Homo sapiens: one gene and its partners. The protein of the gene in region 1 interacts with the protein of each later gene in a pairwise test. Each region holds a gene or a part of one and is shown in the gene's direction. Other genes may lie near its edges.

Region 1 (9,507 bases):
CTAAATCTCGGTTTCCTTATTTACAAAAAGTAAATAATGCCTGTATCAGACAGTGTTGGGGCAAGGTTTTATTAATAGAATAATATACTCTAAACATTCTAAAATGTAGAATCTAGAATTTAAAAGCACATTCTAGAGTTATATAATGCTACATAAATCACATGGCTTTACTGATAGAGGACTGCAGTGGGACTGAAAACAAGAGACCTCTCTCCCAGTCCTGGGACTATCACCTGGGCTCCAAGGAATGAAGTAGTTTTCAGGACATCACTTTCTTCACTTCTAGAATGAGGTAATTAAACAATCATTAGGTCTCTTGCAAGCTCTGACATTCAATGATAGTACACATTTGAATCTATAATCAATTCTGACTTCCCCTTCTTGCTCAAGAAAGTAAAGAGGGATGCTTGCATCAAAGGACCCTGGAATACGTGGCCTGTCTTTACCAGGCTGGAAAAACTCCCCAGCCTCACCCTGATTTCCATGGTATAGAGCCATGAGTTTGTGAACCACATAACATTGCATATGCAATATGCAAAGGTCATGGCCAGAAGTTGTCACTGGCGGTCCAATGACAGCAATTCTCCTCTCTATCCTTGAGCTCCAAGGAGAAAGATGGTAGATGCTGGTTAGCTGGTAGGAGTTTTCTTCTAGTTAGGTTATAGGCCCCAGACCTGGGGAAGCCTATTTCATCCCAAATCTAATCCTTCTTATTTCCTGCCACAATTAATTATTGCAGGCCAATTAATTGAATAGCAACTTTTTAAATCATTAAAGACTTGTTATAATTTAACTAATTATAGAAATATTATTCAGCCATAAAAAGGAAGGAAATTCTGTCACATGTTACAACACAGATGAACCTTAAGGGCATTATGCTAAGTAAAGTAAGCCAGTCGCAAAGAACATAAACGGTGTCATTTCACTTATATGAGGAGTCTAGAGTAGTCAAGCTGGCAGAGACAGAAAAGAGAATGGTGGTTGCCAGGGGCTGGGAAGAGGTGGAATGAGAAGTTGGTGTTTAATGGGTACAGAACTTCAGCTTTGGGGGATGAAAAAGTTCTGGAGATTGGTTGCATAACAATGTGAATACACTTAACACCACTGAGCTGCACTTAAAAATGGGTAAGGTGGCAAATTTTAGGCTATGTAAAAATTATTTTAATTTAACTAATTATATGATTAGTTCAATAACCAGCTGGGAAATCAAGAGCAAATAATAATTATGGATTTTCATCCTTTCCTTCCCCTCTCCAATTATCCCCCACCCCCACTTTCCTCCTTTTGAACCCGGGTGGGTCTTAGGTTTTTTGGAATCCTGAACACACAAATGCTTGTATCTCCTGTTTTGAACCAATATGACCTGTAAAGTATCAAGGTATTGCCTTTATTCCAAATCTCCACCACACACCCCACTAACCACACATTCGTTTTGTTTAACAGGCTAGTCTATTATCAGACACGGATCTCTGGGGACAACTTGGGCATCAGTTGTTTGCCTGAGGAGCAGATGGCTTTAATCATTGGAATTTCTCTTTAACTAAGATTAATGCAAGTTAAGAATTCTGAATGGGAGAAGGGAAGCCAAGACTGATTTTAGAACCTGTTGCCCTTTGGAAGAAGAAAGGTCTAGAAGGGGCATGCTATGGGGATGGAGTAGGGATGACGTTGTACAGTTAGAGGGCAGCACAGCACTGGGCTCCCAGGGCCAGAAGAGATTCAACACAGGCAGAAGGGATGGGGACCCAGATGGAAGGGAGCACCAGAAAGCACTTCACAGACTCAGTAACATTGCCAAGCTCAGCAGCACTGTGCAGTTCATTCAGCGGCACCTGCCCTGGAGAGGAGGAGAATCACTCCCTGTCACTCCAGCCTGCATAGGTTGTTTGCTGCTGGGAAAAGGGCCTAGAGGCCCCTTTGAAAAGCATTCTTATGGTCCAGTATTGCTGGTGGAGCCACTGGTTCTGGCTACGCTGTGTCTGGAGTGGAATGGAGGAAGTTCCTAGGAGGAAGGGAAGAGGCTGAAGGACCCCTGGGCACTGACAAGGGGGGATTGGGCCAACAGAGATGCCTTTCTTCTCTCTCTTCCAAGAGGCTCAGAGTCTTTCACAGTGGTGATCAATGTAACCTCACTGAAGCCCAAAGTGGACTTATAGGAAAAAGAGAGTAACAAGATAGAGGCTTTCCTCATTCACAACCACTATGCCAGCTCTTTTCCTCCGCCAAAATCTGACATGCCGAGTCAAGCCACACCCATCGCTTTCTGGTGCTGTCTGGCTCATACTCTGAATATAATTTCATTTAGTTCCTGCAAATGCACATGTCCAACATCTCTCATCTTCCATGAGCCATGTGGCATGTGGGTCAAGGAAGCCTATTCTCTCCCTTCCCAAAGCCTTGTTAGGGGAACAGCAGGCCTCTTAGTGCAACAGATGAGCAAAGCCACATCTGACCATACATTAGTAACACATAAATAAAGCTGCAAGAGAGGAGGGATGGTGTGAGTCAGGGTCCCAGGATCCACCCATTCTCAATCTCCCCCACCTTTCTCTGCGTCAGGGCTTCCAATTAGAATGCACAGAGATGCTGGCACTCACCCAACTCATTCGTTGAAAACCAACTAATGACAAGTCAACTCAGTCAAAATGGTGGGCCAGTTGAGCTTTTCGGAAGTCACATTGTTATAAATATAAACACATGTATAGCCACAGCCTTTCCCCTTTTCTAAAGACATGAAATATTGAAACATTGCAAGTACTGATCCAGGTAAATGCTCTTAGTCGTGAATGACAAAATCTCATTGAGTAGGCCTTATATGATAAGGCAAGATTAAACATGAAAATTCAGGGGAAGGTGCTGCAGAAAGGCCAAGCTAGAATCGCCCTCTGTTACTAATAACTGGGCAACTGAAATCAATGTGAATTGCAATCTAAAACTCCCTTGCAGTTTGTTTGAGTATTTTCTCTTCAAATCTCCCCCTCTGCGTGCCTTAGTTTTACAATTTAGAATTTCATATATCTAAGCTTCTAAATGGCCAAGAAAAAAGAAGTGTTATTCAACCCGATAAAACTATGCCTTTCAAACTTGAGTTCTAATTCATGATAGGGGTGGGCCACTTTCAACCCCTATCCTCTGATCTGCCACTTTTTACATGATTTCTTCTTTATTCTCCAGTTGTTTTTCTGCTTTCTCTAGGACATCACAATCACCAGCACAACTCGCCATGCATGAGGCTACTCACTCAACCAAGATGCTATATGATTTTGGCCCTCACTCAATGTACTCACACAGGGAAGTGTTTCACACACACTCACTCAGCTTTCAGTATAAGTTACATTATTAGAAACTTTTACTTCAATTGTCTGATCACTTGGAACAAAGCAAGTTTTTTGGATTTAGTTTCTTCTGGTTGACTCATAGTGAAATATGGATATGAGACACTCCCTTATATGAATAAATTAGAGGGCAGGGCTGGGGTTGGATATAAATTATTAGTTGTGTCACCTTTTACAAATGACAGCAAATGCCTTGTTTTTCCTAGACTTGACCCTACAAAAGTCAAAAGCTGCAAAACTCTATGTCACATCAGCAAACAGTCAAATCATGCCCCAACCATCATCACCAATTCTGAATTGTTCTCAAAGGCTGTCACTGTAAGTACACAAATGTAAATGCTTGTGGAATCCCTCGCTGAATATGTATAGACCACTCCCAACTACTCTGGAAGCCCTCTGAGAAGAAGAAACCTCTTGCACTTTCTATAACTAACCTTCCCTCTGCCCTACAAGGCAAGGCGCACAATAGGTATTCAATCAACAATCATTCATTGATTGACTTATTATTTTTACCAGCAGGCATGGGAGAGAAACGGAAAACGTGTTAAAACATTTTGCATTGTAAATTATCAGTTAAGAAATTAAGGCTGTGGAAAAGAATTACACTAGTGTAAGGATCACTCAGATAAAGAAAGAATTGTGGTGTGAGATTATTACTGCGCTGAAAATGCTCACTGTTCATATTTGTCAGAAAGTGACAAACATTTTCTAAAATCAAGCGTGACCAAATTGGCCTTTGTTTCCCCCATTAACACAATAAAAGGGGGTTTAGTCTTCTTCGACAGTCTATTTCGAGTGCGAGGGGTTTTCCCCCTTTTCTTGTCTTTTTGACCCTTTGAACATAATCCACTTAGTTCCCCGCTTCCTAAAGCGCCTCCCACATAGCGGTTTGGGGAGCGCTCTGTGAAGCCCCGGCTGAGACACTTATTGGAACTTTGTTCCCCACATAGGCTATTTAGGAGCGTCTCGGTTTCCTCGGGTGACTCCACAGCCTTCCTGGCTCTTCTCACGCTGCGAGCAGGAGTCAAGGGCGGTGCGGTGCTCGGAGGGGGTCCGGGGGGCGCTGACCATGGTCCTGGCCTCGGAGCTCGGGACGTGAGCGCAGAAGGCGCGGGCGGAGGCTGTAGGGAGCGGCCGTCCGAACCCCCGCCCCTCCCGACCACCGGGGAGCCGCGGGCCTTCACGCAAAGCCTCCACCGCACGCTCTGAGCCGCTCAAAAAAAGGGTGGGGCACCCAGCCGCAGCTGCAATCGGAAGCCGCCCGGGAGGGTTTCAGAAGAATGGAACCGCGGCCAACCCCCTCCCAGACGACCACCGCCCGCCCCAGCAGGGGATCAGCCCATTCCCTATGCCCACGCCCCACCTCTCAAGCTCAAGGAGACGCGGGCAGCCTTTGTGGGCGCACGGCCGCCCACCGCCCAGCCCGAGCCTCGCCGCACCCTGCGCGGAGAAGGGGCGGGTAGGGCGGGGTGCGCGTGCAGATGCGGGAGGCGAGGTCCAGGGCGGGGCATGAAGGCGGGCGCGCCGGGCTCAGGGGCGAGGGAGGGGCGATCCCCGCGCCCCGTCCTCCGTCTCCACCCCCAACCCCCACACCGACCTGGTCGTTGATGTTCTGCAGGGCTTCTTTGCCCGAGGCCCTCCGGATCTCCACCTTCCGGCCCGATTCAACAGATGGCTCTCCGCCGGCGCGCCGGCCCTGCCGCGAGTACGGCGGCTGCGGGTCCGGGCCCAAGTGGGCGACGTCCCGCTGCTGAGCCACCACCTGCCCCGAGCCCCGGCCCACCGACAGCGAGTCGAAGTCGATGGTCTTGTTCTCCGAGGACCCTTCCACCGGGCAGAACATGCCACAGAATTTCTGCCGGGGCTTGGGGCTGCCGGAGCCCAGGTTTTTAAAAAAAGCAGGGACCTCTTCGTCCTCTGCCGCCTTCCCGGATTGCTTTCTCTCGGCCATGGCTCGGGGGCTCGGGTAGGGTCCTCGCCGTCCGTCCGTCCGTCTGCCAGTCCCTAAGTCTCCCTCGCTGTGTGCACAAGCCCCCTAGCTGCTGCCGCGGCTGCCGTTCGCCGCCCACCGCAAGGTGCACAGAAAGGAAGGAGGGCTGGCGAGCCGGCGACCCACCCTCCCGGTCCCTCCCCCTGACCCCGCTTCTCCCCTCCCTGCCCACGCCCCCCGCGGCTACAGCGCGAGCTCGGGGAAGCGGCAAAGTTGGATCTGGGAGGGCGTCCGCTGCGGCTGCGGGAGCCGAAAGGCTGCCAGTTCCCGGCAGCGCTGGGAGGAGGGAGGCGCGGGCGGGGCGCGGCGCCGGGGAGGGGAGCGGTGCTCAGGGGAGGGCTGGAGGGGAGGGAAGGAGAGAGAGAGGGGAGGGCGGCACCGCCCCTAGCCCCGCGCTCCGGAAGTGAAGCGGCCAGACCACCAGCTAATGGATGCGGAGCGGAGGGCCCGCTGACCGCTCTCCGCGCCTGGGTAAGTATCGGGCAGGGCACGCGGAGTGAGGACCGGAGGACGCAGCCCCCAGCCCCAGTGCCCCTCTCCTCCACCTGCCTGGCCCAGGCGCCTCTGCCCCGCCGCATGGCGGAGGTGGGCCGGGGGCGAGGGCGCACTGTGGATAGGGGTCCCGCCCCGTTACCCTGGGTGTGAGCTGATGGATGGGAAAAGGGGACAAGCCGGGCGCCAGGCTACTCAGGGTGTGGGAAGCGGGATGGCACTGAAGATGAGCAAGGATAGCACAGGCAGGGTGGACAGGAGGGGGGCAGCCAAGACGCTGGACACCCCAGCTTCAGTTTGTCCACTCGCCTTGGCAGGCTGCAGGGAGCAGAGACTGAAACGAGAAGGTTCCCGCTTCGTGCATCCACTTTGGTGTGGTTGGGGTGACGGGGGAGTGGGGGGGGGGCACACAACATGGCGGGAAGAAATTCAGAGGGGCGTAGCAGATGGGAGAGGAATATAGAGAGAGACGCAGGTCTGCGGTCTATGGGGGTGTAGCAAAGAGTGCAGTCGGGAATTCCAGCCCAGGGCCACGACTTAAAGACGGGGTGCAGACCGACTCTATTGCGCAAGGCGCCATGGACCGTGTCTGCGCCACTGCGCCAAGAAGGGCGCAGGAACGTGTCGCGATTTGGTTTATTCTGCTTCCTCCACCAAAAAAAAAAAAAAAAAAAAAAAAAGAGAGAAAAAACAAACTGAAACCCCCTTCCCAAATCTCCAGCTTTCCCCTGCGCCCCAGAGCCCCGCCTGGTTCCCCCGCCCCTGTTGCGCACTGCGCCACAGTCGCAGCGTTTCCCGGGTTACCAGATGCCACGTGTTTGGGGAGTAAGTGCGGGTGCGCATCTGGTGCGGAGTAGGAGGTAGGATGTGGGCTGTGAGTGCCATGAATTGTGTGGGGCCAAGCAGGGGAAAGGTGTGTAGGAACTTGGTGTGTGTGTGCAGTAGCTGAGCCACGGCCACCGGGTTGGTAAGTAACCAGGGGGCAATTAGATTTGTGTGCCTAACACGGTCAATGCTGGTCCTTCATTGCTTATTCCCATCTCCACGTCCTTTCCGCGTATCAGTCCCTGCCTCTGCGCGATGACAGCTCCGCCTCTCTTTCCACAGTGGCAAAATCCTGCAGAAATGGTGCCCCTCCTTTGGTGGCCCGGGAGGGAGTTCTGGGCATGCTCAGTAACCAGGGTGGGTTTGGGCTGAGAGGCCGTTTACCGCAGGGCCACCGCGTAGGGCCGTGTAACCAGGGATCCAGTCCCATTGTCAGCCCAGGATTAAATGCGGTTACCAACCACCCCCACAGTCCAATTGTGAGAGATAGTTTGGTGAATATAGTTACATCTGCTGGACAATCAGTCGCAATTTGAAGATCAGCCCATCTTGATAGGTGGAAAGGCGTCTCCGGATGAGAAACAGACTGGGGAAGAAGAATATAGGAGTGGAGGGGCTGAGAGAACCGGAGGGGGCATTTTGGACTTAGCGGCAGATGTGCTTTGCATTTGAATAAAGCATTTGAAAAAAGCGCTTCCAACTGAATTACATCATTTCCTACTCACAGCCCCACTGTGAGATGCGTGCCTTATCAGCACTGCTTTCCAGGTTAGGAAACAGATTTAGAGAGCTTGGGGCGCATAGCCAAGGTTGGGTATTTAGTTAAATGATCCAGCAATTCCAGTGGGAGTCTTCCACCTCAAAGTCTGGCTTCTTTTCCAGCTTGTCCTGTGACCCCCTTTATGTGAGAAAATACAAGGTTCTTCTATTTCTACCGTATCCAGATATTTCCATCCATGGCCCTATTGTATATCAAGGGTGTTTCTTGCCATGTTTTTATTTGAAGGTAACACTGCAGGTCACACTGGGAGGAAGAGTCATCTGAAGATAGCCTAACTTCAGCATAGCAGTCATTCTGTAGACCATAGAGATGCTTTTTCCTGGGCAGTGTCTTTTTACATTCCCTGTTTCCTCTAAATATCCCAGTGGGGAGGAAGGTTGCCCCCAGCTGGTTTTTTTATTTTTGTTTTTGTTTTCAGACAGAGTCTCACACTGTCACCCAGGCTGGAATGCAATGGTGCAAACGCAACTCACTGTAGCCTTGACCCACTCGGCTCAAGCAGTCCTCCCTCCTCAGCCTCCCAAGTAGTTGGGACTACAGGCGAGTGCCACACGCCCAGCTAATTTTTTTATTTTTCCTTTTTGTAGAGACAGGGTCGCACTATGTTGCTGGTCTCAAACTCCTGGGCTCAAGTGATCCTCCCGCTTTGGCCTCCCAAAGTGCTGGGTTTACAGGTGTAAGCCACTGCACCTGGCCCTCCCCCACAGTCCCCACATTTTAGAAAGGAAAAGTCAGGCATGGAGAAGTCAGCAGTCTCAGGTCTCTGGGGCTCCTGGGCACAGGGGTGAAGCAGCATTTTGCCCTCCTGGCTCTCTGGCACCCCTGGTGCCTTCAGCACTTCCCAGAAGACTCAGGAGATCTTCCCACAGCAGGAGCACTGCTGATAGAGTTACAGGACAGCACTGTGGCGTATGGCCCCCATTCGAATTGATGAAGATGTTTAGGCCAAGGGGGAAATGGTTGTAGCCCCTTAACACACACTCCGCAGCAGTAACTGGGAGGTATTAGGAACTCTAACTTTTTTTTTTTTTTTTTTTGAGACAGAGTCTTGCTCTGTTACTCAGGTTAGAGTGCAGTGGTGCAATCGTGGCTCACTGCAACTTCCGTCTCCCAGGTTTAAGCGATTCTCCTGCCTCAGCCTCCCAAGTAGCTGGGATTACAGGCACGTGCCACCACACCCAGATAATTTTTGTATTTTTGGTAGAGACGGGGTTTGGCCATGTTGGCCAGGCTGGTTTCGAATTCCTGACCTCAGTGATCTACCCGCCTTGGCTTCCCAAAGTGCTGGGATTACAGGCATGAGTCACCACGCCTGGCCAACTCTAACTTTTTTACGTTCTCTAATCCTCACAGGTTCTCCAGAACAAAATCCTTGATAGGTGTGCTTCCTCCTTTTTTCTTTTTTCTCAAATGATGGGTTAAAGTTCAAATGTTAGGAAAGGCTGGGTGTGGTGATTCAAGTGTGTAATTCAGCACTGTGAGAGGCTGTGGCGGGAGGATTGCTTGAGCCCAGGAGTTTGAGACCAGGCTGAACAACGTAAGGAGACTGCGTCTCTACACAAAATTTAAAAAACTAGCCAGGCATGGTGGCATGTGCCTGTGGTCCCAGGTACTCAGGAGGTCGAGGTGGGAGGATTGCTTGAGCCCAGGAGAGATCAAGGCTACTACAGTGAGCCGTGTTTACACCACTGCATTCCAGCCTCGGCAACAGAGTGAGACCCTGTCTCAAAAAACAGAAACAGAAACAAATGCTTGGAGAGTGTTGTGTTAGTAACTTATTGTCTTAGTCTATTTTGTGTTGCTATAAAGGAATACCTGAGGCTGGATAATTTATAAAGAAAAGAGGTTTATTTGGGTCACAGTTCTGCAGGCTGTACAAGAAGTATGGTGCTGACATCTGCATCTGGTGACCCCTCAGGAAGCTTCCAGTCATAGCAGAAAGCAAAGAGGGAGCAGATGCGGCAAGAAAGGGAGCAAGAGTGAGGGGAGGGAGGTGGCAGTCTGTTTTTAACAATCAGATCTCGAGGAAGCTAATAGAACAAGAACCCACTCATTACCCCAAGAATGGCACCAAGCCATTCATA
Region 2 (8,580 bases), on another chromosome or scaffold:
GCACTCAGCACAGGGCCCGACACACAGCAAAGCCTCAGCCCTTGTTCTTGCTGCTCATTGATGACAGTGATGACAATGATGGTGACTGAGTTGTGTGGCTGAGCATTTGGACCCCAAGTTTTATCTCCAACTGGCAGGTGGGGAGCCGGGATTTGAATTTGGCTCTGTCTGACCCCATTCTCCCAGGATGCAAGAAATGGGGCCTGGGGAGGATCGCTTGAGCCCAGGAGTTCAAGACTAGTCTGGACAACATAGTGAGACCCCTGTCTCTACAAAAAAAAAAAAAAACAAAATTCTTTTTAAATCAGCTGGCATGGTGGTGCGCACCTGTAGTCTTGGGAGGCTGAGGTGGGAAGATGGACTGAGGCTGGGAGGTCGAGACTGCAGTTAGCCGTGATCGTATCACTGTACTTCATCCTGGGTGATAGAGCGAGACCCCTGTCTCAGAAAAAAAAAGAAATGGGGCCTAAAAGAAAGCCAGACAGCTGAGCATGCAAGAACCGGGTCTCTGTAGATGAGTAGGTGAATGTGCTGGGCATGAGGCTCAAAAAGATGGTCCTTTAACAGGAACGACTGCACACATGTGTGCCCCCACAGAGTGCTGGGTGGAAGGACAAAGTTCCAGAAACTCAGGTTGGAAGTGTCAATGAAGGCACCATTGTGGGGTCCAGTGCTCAGGCAAAGAGACCCAGCCCAGGAATGGTGCTCCCAGCCACAGGGAAAGTCCCGGAAGTGAGGCCAGAGTGGCAGCCCCCCGAGAGCTTGCTTGGCTCCTGTGGTTGGCCGGGGTGTGGTGGGTCCGCTCAGCAGCCGAGCAGAAAGGAGGCTGGATGGGAGGGGGTTACCAAAGGCCTGAACCCACATCCTGGCTCTGCCTCTGATCATCAGGATGACCCTGGGCAAATTGTTCTCCAAGCTTTCCCCTCCTCATTTGTGGGATGAGGCCAACATCCTCCTGGGGTTATGATGGTCTCGGAGGCTGAGCTCCTGTGACTCAATGTCACTGTGACTGGTTTGTAGGAAAATACAACAAATGGGACAAAGTGGACCCCGCAGAACTGTTCAGCCAAGCTCCCACGGAGAAGAAAGAAGCTAACCCCAAGCTGAACATGGTGAAGTTCCTGCAGGTGCGTGGGGCTGGCCTGGGCATGAGCACACCGGGGCTCCCCACCCTCCACAGCTGCCATGTCTTTGCCCACCCTTGCTTGAGTCCTAATCCCCCTTGGACAGGGGGGCCTTTGCTAGCTTTTTCTGTGAGTGCCCCCTGCTGGCCCACGAGGCACCTGCAGGCACCCCCAACACACAAGGCAGTTGCCATTGCCAACCCTCAGTCCTGGAGAGCAGGCCTTCTGCTTTTAAAATAGCTTGTTTGGTCGGGGGGTTTTTCTCCTTAATTTTAAAACAAATGCATACAGATTATGGAAAATTAGAAAGTGCAGATAAGTAGAAAGACAGAAAAATTATGCATAATCATATTACCCAAGACGACTGCTGTTATCATTTAGGGTTATTTCATTTTAACCCTTCTTCTGGGCAGTTTTGGGGTATAAGATCATGTTGCATTTATACTTTTTTTTTTGGTCCAAAAAACATCAATTATAAACTCAATTCTTTTCTGTTGGCTGAGCCAGCCTCAACACAGCCAGCTCCTTACCCAGCCCAGGTACCAGTCCTCCTAACTGAGGTTCAGGGCCTGGGACCAAGCCCTGTCCTGGATGGGAGCACTGGGGGCGGGTGGCACAGACCGGGTCTGCAGCAGGTACGTGTGAACCTGTGCTGTGTGGCAGGTGGAGGGCAGAGGCTGCGACTACATCGTGCTGTGGCTGGACTGCGACAAGGAGGGGGAGAACATCTGCTTTGAGGTGAGTGTGAGGCTCACTTTGTTCCTCACTTTTGGCCTTTCTGACACCAGCCCCAAACTGACACCAGCAGTCAGTCACATCACTCCTGGGGCCAAAGGAGGGAGTAAACTGTACCGGTTTAAAAACACCTCTCCCCTCCCTTTATTCTGAAACTCCACAGATACTTTTAACTGCATAGGCTCTATTAAAGGTGGTCAGTTGTTCCTCCGCTTGCTGAGGCCTCAACGGTATGAGTGAACATAGGAGGGGCCAAATTGTCTGGGTGGATGCAGGTTTCAGAATGGGATTGTCTTGGGGCAGCTTGGTGTTCAGCATCTTGTGCCCAGCGTGACTTCTCAGGGACCTTGGGTTGATGCTGGTTGATTCCCGACCTCAGCACTGAGCTCCTTTTGCAGGCCTCGCTCTGCTCATCTCCTGCCTCATCCAGGATGCCTCCTGCCTCCAGCCAACCCTGGGAGCCCTGCAGAGAAGCAGGTGGCAGCTGCTCCCTGTGCACACCCCATGCCCCATGCTTGCCCCGGCCATGGTGCCCTCACAGTGGCCATGACTGCTGGTCTCACTTGGTGCCCTTCAGACTGTTGTTCTATGGGTCGCCCCCGTGCTCCTGTACCCCCAGCTCTCACCCGTGGCTCAAGAGCTGGTCAGTGAGACAGAGCTGAGGCACCTGGCGTTGCAGTACAGCACCCTCAGCAAATGCGATCACACTCTGTCTCTTCCCAGATACCCTCTCCTCCCCTGCAGGGCGGCTCCTCCCTGGGGGCCTTTGCATCTGGGAATGGAGAATGGGGGCAGCTCATGGGGCTTTCTCCCTTCAGAAATGAAGCCACTTATTCCCAGTAAGGAAGCTGCGTGGCCAGGCTCCGGCGGCGACCCTAGTCCCACTGCACGGCCTTCCTAGTGAGTCTCGGCTCCAGGACCCCTGCTGTGCTTTAGCCCGAGCTGCCCCCACCACAAGCTAGGACCACCCGTGGCCTTCCTGCTCTTGCCCATTTCCTTTCCCCTTCATTCTTTTTTCCTTCCCTGTCTTTTCTTCAGCCTCTTAAAATTTCCACCCACCCCTCCAAACCCTCCCTCCTAGAAGGCAGGGAATCGTGTCACATGGGATGGGTTTGGGGACTAAGAGGTCCCTCATGTACTTGGCAGTAGCATTTCCTGATTTGGTGGGGATGAAAGCAGAGGATTAGAAGAGAGGGCGGGAGTAAGAAGGGAGTGTTCGAGTATGTTTCTAGATGGGAGTAAAGGAAGCCATGTGGTGGGGTGTTGTGGAGTGCTCAGGGCTTCTGGAAAGGCAGGGGGATAGAGGAGGGTCTGGCAGGTGCAGGAAAGGGGATAGAGGAGGGTCTGGCAGGGGCAGGAGAGGGAGCCGAGCACACGTGTTCTTTCCTGGAAGGAACCAGGCTTCACAGTGGGGTGGGGAGCTGTGGCAGGGATCTGGGAGGTGGGTCACAGCTGGCCACTCCCCACCCCCAGGTTCTTGATGCTGTTCTGCCCGTCATGAACAAGGCCCATGGTGGCGAGAAGACCGTGTTCCGGGCCAGGTTTAGCTCCATCACGGACACAGACATCTGTAATGCCATGGCCTGCCTAGGCGAGCCTGACCACAACGAGGCGCTCTCAGTGGATGCTCGCCAGGAGCTGGACCTGCGAATCGGCTGTGCATTCACCAGGTGCTGGCCACACCCGCAGAGTCCTGGGCACACCCTCACTCTCCCTCAGCCAGAGACCTGCCTCTACTGGTCCCCCTCCGGGGCCCCTAGGCCTCCTCGAGCCAGGATGAGCAACAGGGGATTTCACCAACCCTGAAGAAGGCCAGGCACAGTGGCTAACACCTGTAATCCCTGCACTTTGGGAGACCAGGATAGGAGGATTGCTTGAGGTTGGCAGTTTGAGACCAGCCTGGGCAGCATAACAAGACCCCATCTCTACAAAAAAAAAAAAAAAAAAAATTATTTTTTTGAGACAGAGTCTTGTTCTGTTGCCTAGGCTGGAATGCAGTGGTACAATCTCAGCTCACTGCAACCTCTGCCTCCCAGGCTCAAGAGATCCTCCTACCTGAGCCTTCCACTACAGGTGCTACAGGTGTGCACCACTATGCCTGGCTAATTTTTATGCATTTTGTAGAGACAGGGTTTTACTGTATTGCCCAGGCTGGTCTCAAACTCCTGAGCTCAAGCAATCTGCCCACCTTGGCTTCCCAAAGTGCTGGGATTACACATGTGAGCCACTGCGCCCAGGCTAAACAAAAATTTATTTATTTTTTTGTTTGTTTGTTTTTTGAGACAGAGTCTTACTCTGTCATCCAGGCTGGAGTGCAGTGGCACAATCTCAGCTCACTGCAACCTCTGCCTCCTGGGTTCAAGTGATTCTCATGCCTCAGCCTCCCAACTAGCTGGGATTACAGGCTCCTGCCACCACTCCCGGCTAATTTTTATACTTTTAGTAGAGACGGGGTTTCACCATGTTGGCCAGGCTGGTCTCGAACTCCTGACCTCAGGTGATCCGCCCACCTCAGCTTCCCAAAATGCTGGGATTACAGGTATGAGCCACTGTGCCTGTCCAAACATTTTGTTTTAATTAGCTGGGTGTGGTGGTGTGAGCCTGTAGTCCCAGTTACTTGGGAGGCTGAGGTGGGAGGATCACTTGAGCCCAGGAGTTCAAGGCTGCAATGATCTGTGAATCCCCATTAATGCACTCCTGCTGGGCAATACAGCAAGACCCTGTCTCTACAAAAACAAAAGAGACCTAAAGAAAATTGTTTATTTAGCTGACAGAGATCACATATGCCCTGCTTGATAAAGTGTGTTTGTCTGTGCTCTGGGGGTCCTGAGGAGAGTGTGCAGTAGATGGAATAGAATAGAAGGCTCCCTGGCCTGAGACAGTAGAAACCTCTGTCTCCTCTCTCACTGGCTCTGTCACCCATGTACACACATGAATCCTCCCTAAGGCTATGCCCACTCTGCTCCCACTGGCTTCTAAGTGGGGACACCACCTGATGCCACCTCCTTCATGCACCACCCCTGGCCTTGGGCTGGACTCACATGGGTGGCCATAATAGTGTCTTGAGTGAATCAGTGACCAAAATATCTTTCCACTCCCTCCAGGTTTCAGACTAAATATTTCCAGGGGAAATACGGTGATTTAGACAGCTCTCTCATCTCCTTTGGGCCGTGTCAGACTCCAACCCTGGGATTCTGTGTGGAGAGACATGATAAAATCCAGTCCTTCAAACCAGAGACCTACTGGGTGCTGCAGGCCAAGGTTCCTTGCCTTTCTCTATTCATGCTGGGGCTTTCTGGGTTTGGGGCATGGATTCTGAGAGTCTTCCATCATCATCAGCCGGCAGGCCCCGGGCTGAGGGCAGAAGTGTGGACGGCTGTACCTGGAAGTGGTCTGTGGTGCCTAGGGCTGAGGGACCCCAGCCTTCATGGGGGCAGTGGGAAGAGACTGGGCCTGTATATGCTGAATCTGGATAAGTGGGAATGAGTTCAGCTCTGGCAGTGCAGGGTGAGGTCACCCCACAGGAATCAGTGGCTTCAGTGGTCAGGTCCAAGCACTGGACTGAGACCATTGGCTTTCAAACTTTTTAAAATTCCTAGAACCCTTTCTTCAAATAAAAGCCTCCACAGAAGCTCACTGTAAGACTTAATACAGCTAGGCACAGTGACTGATGTCTGTAATCCCAACAACCTGGGAGGCTGAGGCAAGAGGATTGCTTGAGGCCAGGAGTCCAAGGCTACAGTGAGCTACGATCGTGCCACTGCACTCCAGCCTAGCAACACAGTGAGACACTGTCTTGGAGCTGCTGTGGCTGACACGGGGCTTGGGACCCTGGCGGTGGCCATACCTACCACTGGCCAGGCACTGGGGATAGGCAGGGGTGGTGTGAGAAGTAGGGGCTCAGGTGCTTCTTAGGGACACATCAGCCTCAGCTTTGGGCCACCTTCCTGAGACTGGCTGCCTGGTTTTGGGGCAAGTGGTGGAGAGGGCCAGATGTCAGCTTGCGTATCTGCCCACCTGAACAGGTACAGCTGTGAGCCATTACAGCCAGGGCTATTTGGCTCCCAGACAAGGACCAGCTTCATCTGTCCTGGTTCTTCCTGGCGTTGGGCTCACCTGGAGACTTTTTCTTGTGCGTTCACCCTTTATCCTTTTTCCTGCAGGTTAACACTGACAAAGACAGATCTCTCCTTTTGGACTGGGACCGAGTAAGAGTGTTTGACCGGGAGATCGCACAGATGTTTTTAAACATGACAAAGCTGGAGAAGGAAGCCCAGGTGTGCCTGCTCCACCCACATCTATCACAGTTGCCTTGGGTGAGGGTGGCCCTTGGATGCCTCCCGCTGGAGGAACAGCCTGTGATCCTAGTCCACGTCTTTCTCCCCCTTTCTGAAACACAGACATCTTTTTGGAAAGCTGAATGGTTACTCCCTCATATACTCCTAAGATATTTCTGCCCAGTGCAATAGTCACAGTGTACTGCATGCCCGCTCCATACCAGGCACTGTCCACACCTGTGACCTTGTCGGACCCCTTCCACTCTCCCCTTTCCACGTGACCCGCTAGGCATTACCTCCGTGTGGCAGGACTCCATTTCACACAGAGATTCAAACTAACAACTGTAGAGGGACCTTGGTGCACACTGATGAACTTGCCCAAGGTCACAGCTAGCAGGGGAAAGTCTTGAGATTCCAATTGCAATCAGCTTGCGTGCTTTTATGGGATTATGTTTCTTACTCAGGGCTTCTATGAATTGAAAGGACATGCTGCTTGGCTGTTAGGAAAACGGTGAGGTGACCTGGCTGCATGGGTTGGGGACACATCTGTGGCTATTGAAGTAAACATGCTACAGGCATGACAGCTACCAGATCCGTCGAGACACAGCCTGGCCTCCTTAGCCGCCTTCTCCTTGTCCTTCTCTGGCCTTCCTTGAGTGCCCTGTTGCCCGCCATGCTATCGTCTCAGGCATCTGAAACTTCTAAAGCTGCTCCAGGCTGTCAGCATTGATCACATTCCTGCAGAGACACTGTTGCCACCTCCAGGCCTCACGCTGGGGAGCCCAGCTTCACATAACAACTGGCCTCTGTTAGCACCCACATCTGTCTGTCTGGAATGCAGAAGGCACTGCCCTGACCAGCCTACGTGGGATTGGCAAGGGCCAGGGCCTGGGGTTGAGTTGTTTGGATTGTTTTTGCCATAGGCAAAACAAAGAGTTGTCTCTTCCGACAAGTGTTCAGCAGAGGTAGAGAGTGGCAGGACCCCAACAAAGCACAGCTCATAGATGCACTCCACTAACCTGCATGGTGTTTACACAAATTCCAGAATAGTTACCAGCACTTAAAAATTACGAGATTTCATACTAAAATTCTGCCTTCTAGCTTCTCTTGAAAAATCAGAAGAGGTAGCAATACTAGCAGGTGCAGGCAGCAGCCCTCCCCACAACAAGGAGTGGTACTTCCCCTGGGACGGGCCCCACTTGCCATCCCTGTAGCTTGGCTGATGCTGGCTTCTGTAGGATTTCCATCTGCAGCCCTTCTGACTCCTCCTCAATCTTCCAGGTTTTCTCTTTCCCTAGAAAATTCTCCAGAAAAGAATATTCAATCACTTGAGGCCAGGAGTTTGAGACCAGCCTGGACAACACAGGGAGACCCTGTCTCTGAAAAAAATAATTTAAAAAGTAGACGGGCATGGTGGCACGTGCCTGTAATCCTAGCACTTTGAGAAGCTGAGGCGAGAGGATTACTTGAGGCCAGGAGTTCATTTAAGACTAGCCTGGGCAACATAGCAAGACCCTGTCTGTACAAGAAATTGAAAAAAAAAATTGGTCAGACATGATGGTGTGTGCCTGTGGTTTCAGCTACACAGGAGGCTGAGGCAGGAGGATCACTTGTCCCAGGAGTTCAGGGCTACAGTAAGCTCTGATGGTGCCACTGCACTCCAGCCTGGGCGACAGAGCAGGACCCTGTCTCTTAAAAAAAACAAAATTTGGTTTTTTGTTTGTTTGTTTGTTTGTTTTGAGATGGAGTCTTGCTCTGTCACCCAGGCTGGATTACAATGGCGTGGTCTCAGCTCACTGCAACCTTCACCTCCCAGGTTCAAGCAATTCTGCCTCAGCGTCACGAGTAGCTTGGATTACAGGCACGTTCCACCATGCCCAGCTAATGTTTGTATTTTTAGTAGAGACGGGGTTTCACCATCTTGGTCAAGCTGGTCTCGAACTCCTGACCTCAGGTGATCCACCCGCCTCAGCCTCCCAAAGTACTGGGATTACAGGCGTGAGCCACCACACCCAGCCAAAATTTTTTTTTAAAAAAGAATTTTCATTCTTTTTCCTTTCCTGGTCCTGAATAAATATTCAATCAAGTCTTTAGACTGTTGGGAAGAATGAATTGGAGAAACAGGGAGACCAGATGAATGAAACCAGACCCTTCGTCCACACATCTTGATTCCCTCTATGGTGGTGTCTTCCTCCTTCCCCAAATCATTGACTGTCCTGTCTTCCAGGTGGAGGCCACAAGCAGGAAAGAAAAGGCCAAGCAGAGGCCCCTGGCCCTGAACACTGTGGAGATGCTGCGTGTGGCCAGCTCTTCTCTGGGTATGTAGGGACATTTCTCTCAAGTCACCAGAAGGCTTCCTGAGGCAGGTTCAGCCTGGAGCAGCGAGTGCCCAGGGTTGCAGGATGGTGCCCAAGGCTTCAAGGGGATCTGAGCCTCAGGAGGAT
Region 3 (8,783 bases), on another chromosome or scaffold:
AGGTGGCTCCCGGGTACCCCCACACAGCCAGGCTGGGCTGGGACCAGGTGCTGGGATGGGGGCTGTCAGGGAAGTGCCTCGGGGGCTCGTTCTGCAGACCCAGGAGGGATCAGGGCAGCTGCAGGAGGTGGCAGGAGCCGCCCCCGGGGCCTTCCCTTCACAGGCCCCGCAGACACCAGCCCAGGACCCGGAGGCCACCCACACCACCGCCGGCCGATGGGCGTCTTACCAGACATGGTTAGACCTGGCCCTCTGTCTAATACTGTCTGGTAAAACCGTCCATCCGCTGCCTGATCACCGTTAGAGGAGAGAGCTGCCTGCCCTGCAGCTCATCAGTGCAAAGCCGCCCGGTCTGGGGCTCTCATGCCCCCCTCACTATGGCCTGTGCCCATCCGCAGCCCATCAGTGCAAAGCCGCCGGGGTCTGGGGCTCTTGTGCCCCACCCTCGCCATGGCCTGTGCCCACCCGGCCTCCTGGGGCCCTCGAGCTGTAGTCCCCGGGCAGATGCTGTGGACCCCGTGCTATCAGCCTGGCCCCTGGGGTCACAGTCACAGATACCCGGAGCCCCACCCCACAGCCCCAGCCCCCTCGCCACCTGGGGAGGCTGAGACAGAAGCAGCTGGGCCCCCCAAAGTGCCTGAGCCCAGGGCACGGAGGAGCACAAATGCCCAGCAGGGACAATGTCACAGCGTCTCAGCGGCCAGGCAGCAGGACGCAGAGACCTCTGGGAGGTTCCCGGGGCCAGCCCTGGCCCTCCTCCTCCAGGGGCCAGCCGTGGGATGCAGACCACACTCTCCCTCCAGGGCCCATCTCTGGGGCTGAGGCGGGCGGGGCCGGTGCCCAGCTGCAAGACCATGGGATAGGGAAGGCAGGTGCTTGGGGCCACGCAGCCCTGCACTGGGGGCCCCTCCACCCCAGGCGGCTCACGAGGTGTCATCTGGAGCTGTCCCCAAGCCGGGATCTGCAGGTTGACCTCCCCCACCCGGGGCTATCTCCAGACCCTCTTTCCTCCCTGGGGAGATGGGGCAGTCCCCCGCAGGGCCAGCTGAAACCACCCCCATGCTGCTGCCGCCTGAGCGACGTGTGTGGGGAAGAACTTGGAGTGCCACCCCCAGAATGTGGCGTCCACCTCACCAGACCGCACGGGTGAGCCCTGGACTGCAAGGTGCATATAACACAAGGTTTGGACACACCTGGAGAGCTCGGGCCAGGCAGGGCCACACCTGTGAGCCTGAGCTCATCCAACACCGCCCGGAGCTCGGGGACCTTCCCCATCCCAGCACCTCCTCACCGCTGTGCCCGTCTGGCCAGTCCCTCCAAGCACCCCTCGGATGAAGTTGCGCCCCACACTGCAGTGGGGCTCACTCTCCACAGCGCCTGCTGCGTTGCACGGGGTGTGACAGGAAGGACCCTGCTGGGGCTGGCGGGGCCGTACCCAGAGCCTCCCTGTGCGGTTTCTCCTCCTCCTCCTCCTCTCCATAAGCACCGGGAACAAAACAGAAAAAAGTCTTTGTATAGTAATAAAGTCTGCAGTTCACGCACCCATGCTTGGACCAGCTCCTTATTTTAACCACACGTGCACAGACCCCCGCCGTGCAAAGGGCCCAGCTGAGGACAGAACCCCAGACACTGCATCCGGCCCCGGAGGCCCCCAAGGTTCCTGGGAGAGGCTCCCTCCCTCCCTTCCCTCCTCTTTCCCTCCCCCTCCTCCTTCCTCTCCTCCATCCCTCCTTCCCCCTCCTCCCTCCTCCTCCTCTCTCCGTCCCTCCCTCCCTCCTTCTTTTGCTCAGGAATCTTCCCTGACTCTCCTGTGGTCAGCTCAGGTCAAGGTTCTGGGGGAAGGGGGAGTCCCTGAGTGGAGACACCTCAGCCTGTGCTGAAGGGAGCTACCGAGGGGGCAGCCGGTGGCCCTGGGGGGCCTCTCTGAGCAGGTGACCAAGAGCGTATGGTGCCGGCCAGCAGGAGCGAGGGCTGCGGACAGGATGGAGGCAGCCAGGCGCCAGCCAGGAGGGCTTCCTGGTCCAGCCACACCTGCCCCGGTGACAGCCACAGGTTGGTGGCAAAGGGGCCACCTCCCTTCCAGTGGCAGGGCCTGGCCTGCCTGGAGACCCCACCCACTGCCCGAGAGGTGCCAGGCCTCCCCCATTCTGCCTGGCCCTGGGGGCTGCACCCACCTGGACACGCGGGCCGGGCACACCCACGGCCCAAGGTCCTGCTCCCACCTGCCCTGCGCAGGAACCTTGCTGGGGCTACAGGTATCCGTGGCTGCCACACCACCCAGATTTTGGGATTAAGGGGCAGAGTTTTCAAGTTTGAACTCAGGAAAGCTGTGAGGGACGAGGTAGTGCCTGGCTGGGGAGCCTGGGGGCTTCTGAGGGCGGTGGGGAGTCCTCAGGCCTGTGTGGGGCCCCAGGGAGGGGAGGCTGCAGGGGTTGGGGGACCTGCCCGCTGCACCCCCTCTCCCCCCACACAAGGAAACCCGTCCTCCGAGGTGTGTGTCCAGATCACATCCTCCAAAGGCCGGTGCGCCACAAAGATGAACACGGGGCTCTCCCTCCCAGCCCAGGGGCAAGGACCCTGCCTTGCTCTGTTCCCGGAAGGGCCAGTTCTGGAGAGGAGCTGGGCGAGTCCTTCCCATCCCCATCAGCTCCTGTCAGGCCACCTGCCTCAGCCTCAGGGAGGAGGGGACACACGTAGGCCCCTTCCCAGAGTCAGAGCTTCCGAACCCGGATCTGCTGCTCCCAGCCTGGAGAGCCACAGCAGCCACCGAAGGAACCCCCCACCCGTCACCCCCACCAAGTGGGCCCTGCTCCCCGAAGGCCCAGCCACTCAGCCCAGGACCTGCCCCAGCCCCACCTGCCACCTGACCTGAGGCTCCCAGAGGGCAGAGGGGCCTCCTGGGTCTGCTCCGCACCAGGGTCCAGCGGGACCATCTCAAAGCTTGAGCACCAGGCGCAAGGTGGGAGTGCGGGGAGGGGACGAGGACACTGTTCCCAGCTGGACAGAACCAGGAGGACGGTGGGAGACGCCCCCCACCGCCCCGCTTCCGAGAGCTCTCTCTTCCTTCCAGGGACTCCCCAGGGACAGCCGGGGCCCCTTCTTCCCCCACAGCTCAGGCCCCAGGGACACAGAGCGGGGAACCCCCAGGCTGCCGCCCCGGCGTGGGTCGGGGAGGCGGCTCCGGAGCGGGCACCACACTCTCGAAAGGGTGGCTTCTCCTCCCGGCTGCTGAAAAACCACACAGGCAGGCACAACAACAGACGCTTACGCCCGCATCTGGAGGCCAGAACTCCAAAGCCACAGGGCAGGCAGGGCTGCACCCCTCTGGGGGCTCCAGGAGAGGACCCTGTCTGCCTCCCCAGCCCCTGCCAGCTCAGGCATCAGTGGCTGTGGCCGTGTCACCCATCTCTGCCCCCCAGTCCCACGGCGTCTCCCCCACGTCTGCGTCTCCTCTCTCCACCTCCCTCTCAGGGGGGCAGAGGCCATTGATTCAGGGCCTGCCCTGGGTGATGTCACTAGAGATCCTGACGTAACCCCACCTGCAAAGCCCCTTCTTCTAAATAAGGTCACATTCGAGGTTTCAGGGCTATGATGTGGTTGTCTTTTGGGGGCACCACCAGCCCCCTGCAAGGGGACCCTAAGCACAGAGGCCCTCGTGACCCACGCAAAGCTCTGAAGGACACGGATGGGTAGGGGACACGTGGCTGGAGGCTCAGAGTTTGAGGCAGAGGGGATCAGACCGTGCCATGGGTCATGCCAGGAGCCCAGGACTCCCAGACCTCGTATCATTAGGTGTTTTAAAGAGAAGGCGAGGGCAGGCCAGGCGCAGTGACTCACGCCTGTAATCCCAGCACTTTGGGAGGCCGAGGCGGGCGGATCACCTGAGGTCAGGAGTTCAAGAGCAGCCTGGCCAACATGATGAAACCCTCTAAAATTAATAATAAATTAATAATAAAATAATTATAATAATATAGAAAATAATATATAAAATAATAAATATATAAAATATAAAACAAAATAAAAATAAAAAATAAAATTAATATTAAAAATACAAAAATTAGCTGGGCACTGTGGTGGGCACCTGTAATCCCAGCTACTCGGGAGGCTGAGGCAGGAGAATTGCTTGATCCTGGGAGGCGGAGGTTGCAGTGAGCCGAGACCGTACCATTGCACTCCAGCCTGGGCAAAAGAGTGAGACTCCGTATTTTGAAAAAAAAAAAAGAGAGAATGTGAGGGTTAAACAAAGACACACAGAGATGGAGAAAGGGCAGCCTTACATCAACACGGGTACATTGCAAACACCTGCAGAGGTGGGGGACCAGCTGGATGCCAGAGCCCACTGCCGCCTACGGGCTGGGGTGCCTATAGGTATGGGTGGGAGCGGCCCGGGCCACACGGCTTCAGGATGAGGCCGTTTGTTTGGCCCTTGTTCCCGCAGAAGGTAATCGTGATGTTCCTCGGTGTTTTTCCCCGCAGAGTGTTCAAGTCAGGTGTCGGGCAGGCTGTTCCTCACGGCCCAAACCCCTGCGGAATGCTTCACTTTGGCCGAGGTCTGTGACACAGCGAGGGGCTTACAGAAAGGTGCAGTTTGGACCGATAGATGTGAGTCCCCCTCTGGGGGGCACTCACTTTGTGGAGCCCCCGGTTCCTGTTTGCAGAGGGGGGCACAGTGGCACCTCGTCCGCTGTGGAGTGAGAACAGGGACCCGACCACGTGAAGCACAGAGAATGCTCAGGGATCGGCAGCCGTGTATCCAGCCAACATCACCAGGGTGCACGCAGAGCCTGGCCCGGGCCAGGTCCTGGGGTGCTGAGCATGGGTGGGGCCTGAGAGACGGCTCAGGGACCATCCTGGGAGGGCCGGGCGGAGGGGCAGCAACTGGGGCTCAGGCTCAGGCAGTCCCAGCAGTGACTGGGAGGCAGCTGTGCCCATGAAGCTGTGCCCTTCTCCAGCCTCAGCCCTCAGCCCGGCTTCCCGGGCTGGCCCCGCCACTCAGCAGCCCCTCCCCATCCTCCGAAAACCCAAGCTCACCTCTGGGTTCCGGCTGGGTGGGGGTTGCCAGGAGACGGTTGCCAGGTCACCACTGTTGTTTCCTGGCCCAGGCTCCCAGGACCTTGTGGGCTGGGCAGGTAAGAAGCGCCGGCGGCCACCAGCTGGGGTCCAGTGGGCTCGGCCCCGCCCTCCTACGCCCTGCCTGCGGGTCCCCTCGGGAGGCTGCTCAGGAGAGGAGGAGGCTGGGGAGGGGACTGGACAGGGATCGGGTAGGGTGGGGCCAGGCTGAGCCTGCTCTGCGGGTCCCGGACCCCAGCGCCACCGTGCGAGAGGCTCGGGTCCAGGCCAGGCCGGGGAACGGTGTGTGTACCCGGTGGGGTGGGAGGGCTGGGCAGCCCTGGGACGAGCTCCGTGGCCTGGGACCAGGTCTGCCTCCGCAGAGCAAGTCCTGGACGGACGGCTGCTTGAGCCCACAGGTCGTGCGTCCTTTGACAGCGGCCTCCGGCCGGGAGGCACCAGCTCTTCGAACAATGTCAGTACCTTCCTAGGGCCCCACGTGGCCAAGCTTGGATTCTGGGGGGAGAACTCGCAGCAGGACACTAACATGTGGTCGCTTTTTGGATGATTTCTTCAGGTTTAAAAGTCTCTTCTGTTCATCCTACCGGGGTGCCGTCTCCTGCCGGTCTTTTCATCTCACCAGGTAAAACGCTTATTTTACAATTTATTGTAAGGTCGTGCACCAAGTTTCCACGCCGCCTTTACACCGTGTCCCCACCGAGGGGCGTCACAACCGTCCTCCACACCGGGCGTCACCGGCTTCCCAAGTCCCACCGCTATAAAGGACACGTCAGTCAGCATCTCGGAGTGAGACGCTTTCCTTCTGGATTCAGAATCGCGTCCGTCAGAGACTCCAAAGCACATTTGCTAGATCGACAGGCGTGAGGAGCCAGCGGCTCCCGGCGCTTGGGAGGCTGCGTCCCACCTGCATTCAGGCCCCGGGTTCACCACACACACAGCGGGCAGCTGCTTAAGAAACCTTTGATTTCAGTCCGGGGCGGTGGCTCACGCCTGTAATCCCAGCACTTTGGGAGGCCGAGGTGGGCGGATCACGAGGTCAGGAGTTTGAGACCAGCCTGGTCAACATGGAGAAACCCTGTCTCTACTAAAAATACAAAAATTAGCCGGGCATGGCAGCAGGCGCCTGTAATCCCAGCTACTCAGGAGGCTGAGGCGGGAGAATTGTTTGAACCTGGGAGGCGGAGGTTACAGTGAGCCGCGATTGCGCCATTGCACTCCAGCCTGGGCGACAGAGTGAGACTTCGTCTAAAAAAATTAAAAAAAAAAACACCTTTAATTTCAATGACAAGAAATAACAGCTCACAACTTATTTAGTTATTTGTGAACATCATAAGGACATAAAGTTAGAAAAGCCCAAAGGAGGCCTCAGGCTTACGATGAAATCAGCACCTGGCTGCCTCTTCCAGCTGCTGCTTCTTCTGCAGCAGAAGAGACGGAGGCAGTTTCCTGGGTGGGGGGGTGGGTGCTGTGCTTCCGCTTTCTAACTGCCTGTTTCCAAAAAGCACCTGATGCTGCTGCTTCTGGAGCTTCCAGTGCAGAAATTCCCCGTGGACGGTGAAAGGGGCTTGTCTTCCACACGCTGCCCTGTCCATATCATCCCGGCACGAATGATGTTTGGGGCAGAGCTGCCCGGCCTCCCCGGGTGGTGCCCATTTGTTTTCCTCAGAGTTGGCGATCGCCTTGCTTTTCACATGTGCTTGTGTTCCCGCCTATCCTGAGCTGTCCCTGAGCTCTCTGCCTCCCGTCACCCCCACAGTCACCATCACCACAGCCCTGCAGACTGCGCAGTGTGTGGCGGGTGCTGTCCTGACATTACATGTGGAAACTCCATCTTTGCAGCAACCCTGCGAGGCTGCTGCTCCCAGCTGCTGTGCAGGTGGAGAGAGGCTGCTGTTGTGCAGGTGGAGAGGCTGCTGCTCCCAGCCGCTGTGCAGGTGGAGAGAGGCTGCCACCGTGCAGGTGGAGAGAGGCTGCCGCTGTGCCGGTGGAGAGGCTGCTGCCGTGCAGGTGGAGAGAGGCTGCCGCTGTGCCGGTGGAGAGGCTGCTGCTCCCAGCCGCTGTGCAGGTGGAGAGAGGCTGACGCTGTGCAGGTGGAAAGAGGCTGACGCTGTGCAGGTGGAGAGGCTGCTGCTCCCAGCCACTGTGCAGGTGGAGAGAGGCTGACGCTGTGCAGGTGGAGAGGCTGACGCTGTGCAGGTGGAGAGAGGCTGCCGCTGTGCAGGTGGAGAGACTGCTGCTCCCAGCCGCTGTGCAGGTGGAGAGAGGCTGACGCTGTGCAGGTGGAGAGAGGCTGACGCTGTGCAGGTGGAGAGAGGCTGCCGCTGTGCCGGTGGAGAGGCTGCTGCTCCCAGCCGCTGTGCAGGTGGAGAGAGGCTGACGCTGTGCAGGTGGAGAGAGGCTGACGCTGTGCAGGTGGAGAGGCTGCTGCTCCCAGCCGCTGTGCAGGTGGAGAGAGGCTGACACTGTGCAGGTGGAGAGAGGCTGACGCTGTGCAGCTGGAGAGAGGCTGACGCTGTACAGCTGGAGAGGCTGGGGCACACAGTCATCAGGTCAGCTGCAAGCTCACAGCTGCTGCATCTTTTCCCTGACAGCTCACTCCTGTGAGAGTCTTCCAGGCTTCCCGGAGGGACGGATGTCTCCTCACCTTTTCCCACCTCCACACCTTTTCCCACCTCCACACCTGGTAGGCCAGGTATGGAATTCCTGGAATTCCCGGCTGGGAGCCTCCTGGGCCGGTTCCAGCCCTGTGTGTCCCCAGGAAGGCTGGAGGGCTGCTAGTGGCCTCGGTGGGCACCCAGGGCTGGCCAGGACCACACCTCCTTCCTCCGGCTCTGTGCCTGTATCTCCCCGGGCCTCCCCTCTCGCCTGGGGCTCCACGGTGACCCTGCTGTGCGGCACCTCGGATTTACACCCACAGTCCCATCCCCAGGGTTCCCTTCTGGGCAGTTTCCTTGACTTAAATCCCAACCCCGGTGTTGCATTTTTAATTCCCACCGGCTCTTTTGTATTCTCTGTGCCTTTGCTTTAAAAGCACGCGGCTCTCTGAGGGGTCCTGTCTCCATCACCCCAGCCTTTTCCAGGCTGGTTTGTTTCCCTGTTTCTCCCCTTTTCTCTTCCTCTGTGTGCGTCTGTGTGTCTGTGTGTCTACATGTCTGCGTGTCTGTGTGTGTCAGCGTCTGTGTGTGTGGGTGTCTGTGTGTGTGTGTGGGTGTCTGTGTGTGTGTCTGTGTGTACGTGTGTGTGTAGACGTGTCTGTGTGTAGGTGTCTGTAGGTGTGTCTGTGCATGTTTATAGGTGTGTGTGTGCATGTCTGTAGGTGTGTCTGTGCATCCATGTGTCTGTGTGTGTAGGTGTGTCTGTGCATCTGTGCAAGTGTCGACATGTCTGTGTGTGTCTGTGTGTAGCTGTGTGTCTGTGCGTGTGTGTGTGTAAATGTGTCTGTGTGTCATTCTTTTTTTTTTTGAGACGGAGTCTCGCTCTGTCGCCCAGGCTGGAGTGCAGTGGCACGATCTCAGCTCACTGCAAGCTCCACCTCCCAGGTTCAAGCTATTCTCCTGCCTCAGCCCCTCAAGGAGCTGGGACTACAGGCGCCCAACACCATGCCCGGCTAATTTTTTGCATTTTTAGTAGAGACAAGGTTTCATCATATTAGCCAGGATGGTCTCAATCTCCTGACCTCATGATCTGCCCGCCTCAGCCTCCCACAGTGCTGG
Region 4 (3,811 bases), on another chromosome or scaffold:
CTGCACTCCAGTCTGGGCGAGAGAGTAAAACCCTGTCTCAAAAAAAAAAAGGTCCGCAGTCCAGCAGATCACAGTGCACTACAGTGTGGCAAACTGGGGGTGGGTAAAGGTTTCCCAAAGGAGGTGAGGCCTGTGCGACCAATGCAGGCACAAAGGAAAGGAAATGAATGCAAACTTGGACTGTGTGGGAAACTGCCAGAAATCCAGCATGTCAGGGGAACAGTGCAGAGGCCAAAGTGGTTAAGAGGCGAGGCGGGGACCATGCTGGAGGTGCAGGGAGCAACTGGATTATAGACAGCCTTGGAAGCTGTGGTTATGAGATTGGATTTTATCCTCAGGGCAACTGGGAGTCACTTTCAAGCAGGAGAGTGACAAGGCCAGGCACGGTGGCTCACGCCTGCTGTAATCCCAGCACCAGCCTTGTCAACACAGCATGACCTTGTCTCTACTAAAAACTTAAAAAGAAACAATTAGCTGGGTGTGGTGGCACATGTCTGTAGTTCCAGCTACTCAGGAGGCTGAAATGGGAGGATCACCTGGAGCTGGAAGTTAGGGGCTGCAGTGAGCCATGATCATGCCACGGGACTCCAGCCTGGACCATGGAGCAACACTCTGTCTCAAAAAAATAAATAAATAAATAAATAAATAAATAAATAAATAAATAAAATAAAAAAGCAGGAGAGTGATAAGATCATTTTGACTCTGGCTTCAAGATGGAGAATGGGTGTTGGGAGAGGATAGAGACGAGCTGGCAGTCCAGATGGCAAGCTTGGGAAGTAGCACTTGTGATGAGGGGGACAGGTAGAGAAGATGCTAAATTAGTACCTGCAGGCTGAGAGGATGTGACAGAGGAAGAGAGGGAGAGGAAGGGGATTGCTACTGCCTTCTTCCCCTCATCACCTTCATTTTGTCACCAACCCCTTTTCTCTGCCCCAGTGGCTTCCAGCTGGACAGTCCCTTCTAGGATCTCTGATGGGAGTTCACCCACAACCCTGCTCTTCCCCACCCTTTTGCCCCAGTCCTAAGAACTGCCCACTCTTTGTGCCCTGCAGACGGTGCCGGGCTGACCCCCCATCATGCCAGGCTGGCTCACCCTCCCCACACTCTGCCGCTTCCTTCTTTGGGCCTTCACCATCTTCCACAAAGCCCAAGGAGACCCAGGTAAGACCCCAGCCCAGGCCAGAATCTGGGGGAGGCTTGGGGAGACTGCAAGGGTGGGGAAAGGGGAAAGGGCAGTTGTTGCAGGTACCCAGGGACTGAAAGTCATTGCTGAGAAGGCAATGGAGGAGAGGGTTGGGGGGCTCTGGAGAAAGCATTTGGGGAGCAGGGTCTGATGGGCACTTGGGGCAGTGAGGATTGGGGGTTCCTGCCACTGTGGCCCCCTCTGCCCAGCATCCCACCCGGGCCCCCACTACCTCCTGCCCCCCATCCACGAGGTCATTCACTCTCATCGTGGGGCCACGGCCACGCTGCCCTGCGTCCTGGGCACCACGCCTCCCAGCTACAAGGTGCGCTGGAGCAAGGTGGAGCCTGGGGAGCTCCGGGAAACGCTGATCCTCATCACCAACGGACTGCACGCCCGGGGGTATGGGCCCCTGGGAGGGCGCGCCAGGATGCGGAGGGGGCATCGACTAGACGCCTCCCTGGTCATCGCGGGCGTGCGCCTGGAGGACGAGGGCCGGTACCGCTGCGAGCTCATCAACGGCATCGAGGACGAGAGCGTGGCGCTGACCTTGAGCTTGGAGGGTGAGGCCCTTCCGCTCCCGCCCCATTCCTGTGTAGCAGCGGGTCCGCCTCGCCTGGGTCTCCCAGGGCTCCTTCCCAGTATCTCCTCCGCACCCCTGGGGACCCCAGCTCCCTCTCCCAGGCCGCGCCGCCCTTCCTCCCCCTCCGCTCCCATCCGCTGGCCCTCCCCAGGATCCCCGCCACCCCCTAGGTGTGGTGTTTCCGTACCAACCCAGCCGGGGCCGGTACCAGTTCAATTACTACGAGGCGAAGCAGGCGTGCGAGGAGCAGGACGGACGCCTGGCCACCTACTCCCAGCTCTACCAGGGTGAGCGGCCGAACCCAGCACTTCCCAAGCCCCGCGGAGCTGTCTCAGGGGCCCGAGAGAGGGCGCCAGGCGAGCTCAGTCTGGCTCCTGCCTATGACGCCTCTTATCCCCGACCTCCGCCGTCTCCCGCCAGCTTGGACCGAGGGTCTGGACTGGTGTAACGCGGGCTGGCTGCTCGAGGGCTCCGTGCGCTACCCTGTGCTCACCGCACGCGCCCCGTGCGGCGGCCGAGGCCGGCCCGGGATCCGCAGCTACGGACCCCGCGACCGGATGCGCGACCGCTACGACGCCTTCTGCTTCACCTCCGCGCTGGCGGGTGAGGCGCGGGACGAAGGCAGGGTCTTGGGGAGGGGTCTGAAAAATGTGGGGGACGAGGAGTGGACCTCAGCTTGAGATCAGGGCAGGGTCTCCGGGTCCCTCCAAGGCACCGCCCCCCCATCAGCCCGCCCGCCCGCCCAGGCTCCAGCTCACCTCTCCAAACCCTCCCTGCACTTTTGCCTCGATCCCCCAACTCCTCTTACCCAAGCTCGATCCAGCACCTCTGCGGTCCCGCACCCCAACTCCGCCTCCTGGGTGTCAGCCGCCCCTCTCCGCCCACCCTGCCCTCGGTCGGTGACCCGCTGTGGTCCCCAGGCCAAGTGTTCTTCGTGCCCGGGCGGCTGACGCTGTCTGAAGCCCACGCGGCGTGCCGGCGACGCGGCGCCGTGGTGGCCAAGGTTGGGCACCTCTACGCCGCCTGGAAGTTTTCGGGGCTAGACCAGTGCGACGGCGGCTGGCTGGCTGACGGCAGTGTGCGCTTCCCAATCACCACGCCGAGGCCGCGCTGCGGGGGGCTCCCGGATCCCGGAGTGCGCAGTTTCGGCTTCCCCAGGCCCCAACAGGCAGCCTATGGGACCTACTGCTACGCCGAGAATTAGGCGCCCACCGTGTCCCCTCCAGCGCGCGCGAAGAAGCTTGGGAGTCGTGGCGGGGGTCTCTCGCCACCCCTTTCCGGAGAGCCTCCCCTCCCTCCAGACCCGGAGCGGCCTCTCCAGACCTGCCTTCCCAGCCGGGGGCTGCGGGCCTCGGACCCCGGCTGGCCCGGCGGCGGGGAGGGGAGGCGGGGGCGCCTCCGGCGGCGAGATGCAGAGGTGACCCTCGGACCCGCTGCCGTTCGCGAACCCTAGCAGAGGACTCAGCCACCGCCGGGGGGAGGGTGAGGCGGCCGGGGGCATTAACTGACCTCTGAGTACAGCAATAAAATAACCTGGGGATCTTTTGTGTTGGGTGGAGCTGTAAGAGCTGCGAGGCGTGGAGGGGTGTGTGTGTGTGTGTGTGCACGCTCATGTCGGGGCTGATGACCCGGGATCCTGCGTGCCCACTGAGCACCTAAGACAGGGTAAGGGGCAGGGCTGTTGCTGTTAAGGGATGGGTCAGCGGAAGAGCGGGAGTGCGGCCGGAGGGCACCAATAGGCCAAGGGAGAGAGAGAAGTGGAGACGTAGTGGGCGCCTGGCCCAGGACCCACGCAGAACCCAGCATGTTGTTGCGCCAGGCGCCACGCGGGGGCGCCGCACACTCACCTAAGATTAGTTCAAATCTGCCAGGGGCGCCCCATGCCACCAGGCCCACCCTATGTGCCCCAGATAACAAATATAAGACAACTTAAACATATTTCAAAATGTGCAGGCTGCAGACCTCCCTGAAGCGTTTGCGGGGACTACTGTTAAAGATAGGAAAGTCATATTGTTGCTAGAATTGACAGGAAATTAACCTTGCGT

The links.
Region 2: the proteins of PNMA2 (region 1) and TOP3B interact in binary tests that used the Homo sapiens proteins (3 or more experiments, as listed by UniProt).
Region 3: the proteins of PNMA2 (region 1) and TTLL10 interact in binary tests that used the Homo sapiens proteins (3 or more experiments, as listed by UniProt).
Region 4: the proteins of PNMA2 (region 1) and HAPLN2 interact in binary tests that used the Homo sapiens proteins (3 or more experiments, as listed by UniProt).

Annotation. Positions count from the first base shown.
Region 1 is NC_000008.11:26,510,105-26,519,611, reverse strand, and holds the start of PNMA2 (paraneoplastic antigen Ma2), read left to right. Parts: upstream 1-5,739; 5' UTR 5,740-5,796; exon of another isoform or gene 5,797-6,784; intron 6,785-9,507. Other genes in the region: DPYSL2 (dihydropyrimidinase-related protein 2), read right to left, coding at 4,933-5,286.
Region 2 is NC_000022.11:21,965,159-21,973,738, reverse strand, and holds part of TOP3B (DNA topoisomerase 3-beta-1), read left to right. Parts: intron 1-1,020; coding exon 1,021-1,127; intron 1,128-1,787; coding exon 1,788-1,862; intron 1,863-2,677; exon of another isoform or gene 2,678-2,759; intron 2,760-3,332; coding exon 3,333-3,529; intron 3,530-4,963; coding exon 4,964-5,120; intron 5,121-6,022; coding exon 6,023-6,136; intron 6,137-8,363; coding exon 8,364-8,454; intron 8,455-8,580. UniProt on the Homo sapiens protein: Releases the supercoiling and torsional tension of DNA introduced during the DNA replication and transcription by transiently cleaving and rejoining one strand of the DNA duplex.
Region 3 is NC_000001.11:1,168,798-1,177,580, forward strand, and holds the start of TTLL10 (inactive polyglycylase TTLL10), read left to right. Parts: upstream 1-5,082; 5' UTR 5,083-5,129; exon of another isoform or gene 5,130-5,487; 5' UTR 5,488-5,522; coding exon of another isoform or gene 5,523-5,524; exon of another isoform or gene 5,525-5,626; coding exon of another isoform or gene 5,627-5,692; exon of another isoform or gene 5,693-7,619; intron 7,620-8,783. UniProt on the Homo sapiens protein: Inactive polyglycylase.
Region 4 is NC_000001.11:156,622,415-156,626,225, forward strand, and holds the end of HAPLN2 (hyaluronan and proteoglycan link protein 2 precursor), read left to right. Parts: intron 1-1,052; coding exon of another isoform or gene 1,053-1,076; coding exon 1,077-1,161; intron 1,162-1,392; coding exon 1,393-1,746; coding exon of another isoform or gene 1,747-1,750; exon of another isoform or gene 1,751-1,883; intron 1,884-1,936; coding exon 1,937-2,053; intron 2,054-2,186; coding exon 2,187-2,369; intron 2,370-2,686; coding exon 2,687-2,970; 3' UTR 2,971-3,311; downstream 3,312-3,811. UniProt on the Homo sapiens protein: Mediates a firm binding of versican V2 to hyaluronic acid. May play a pivotal role in the formation of the hyaluronan-associated matrix in the central nervous system (CNS) which facilitates neuronal conduction and general structural stabilization.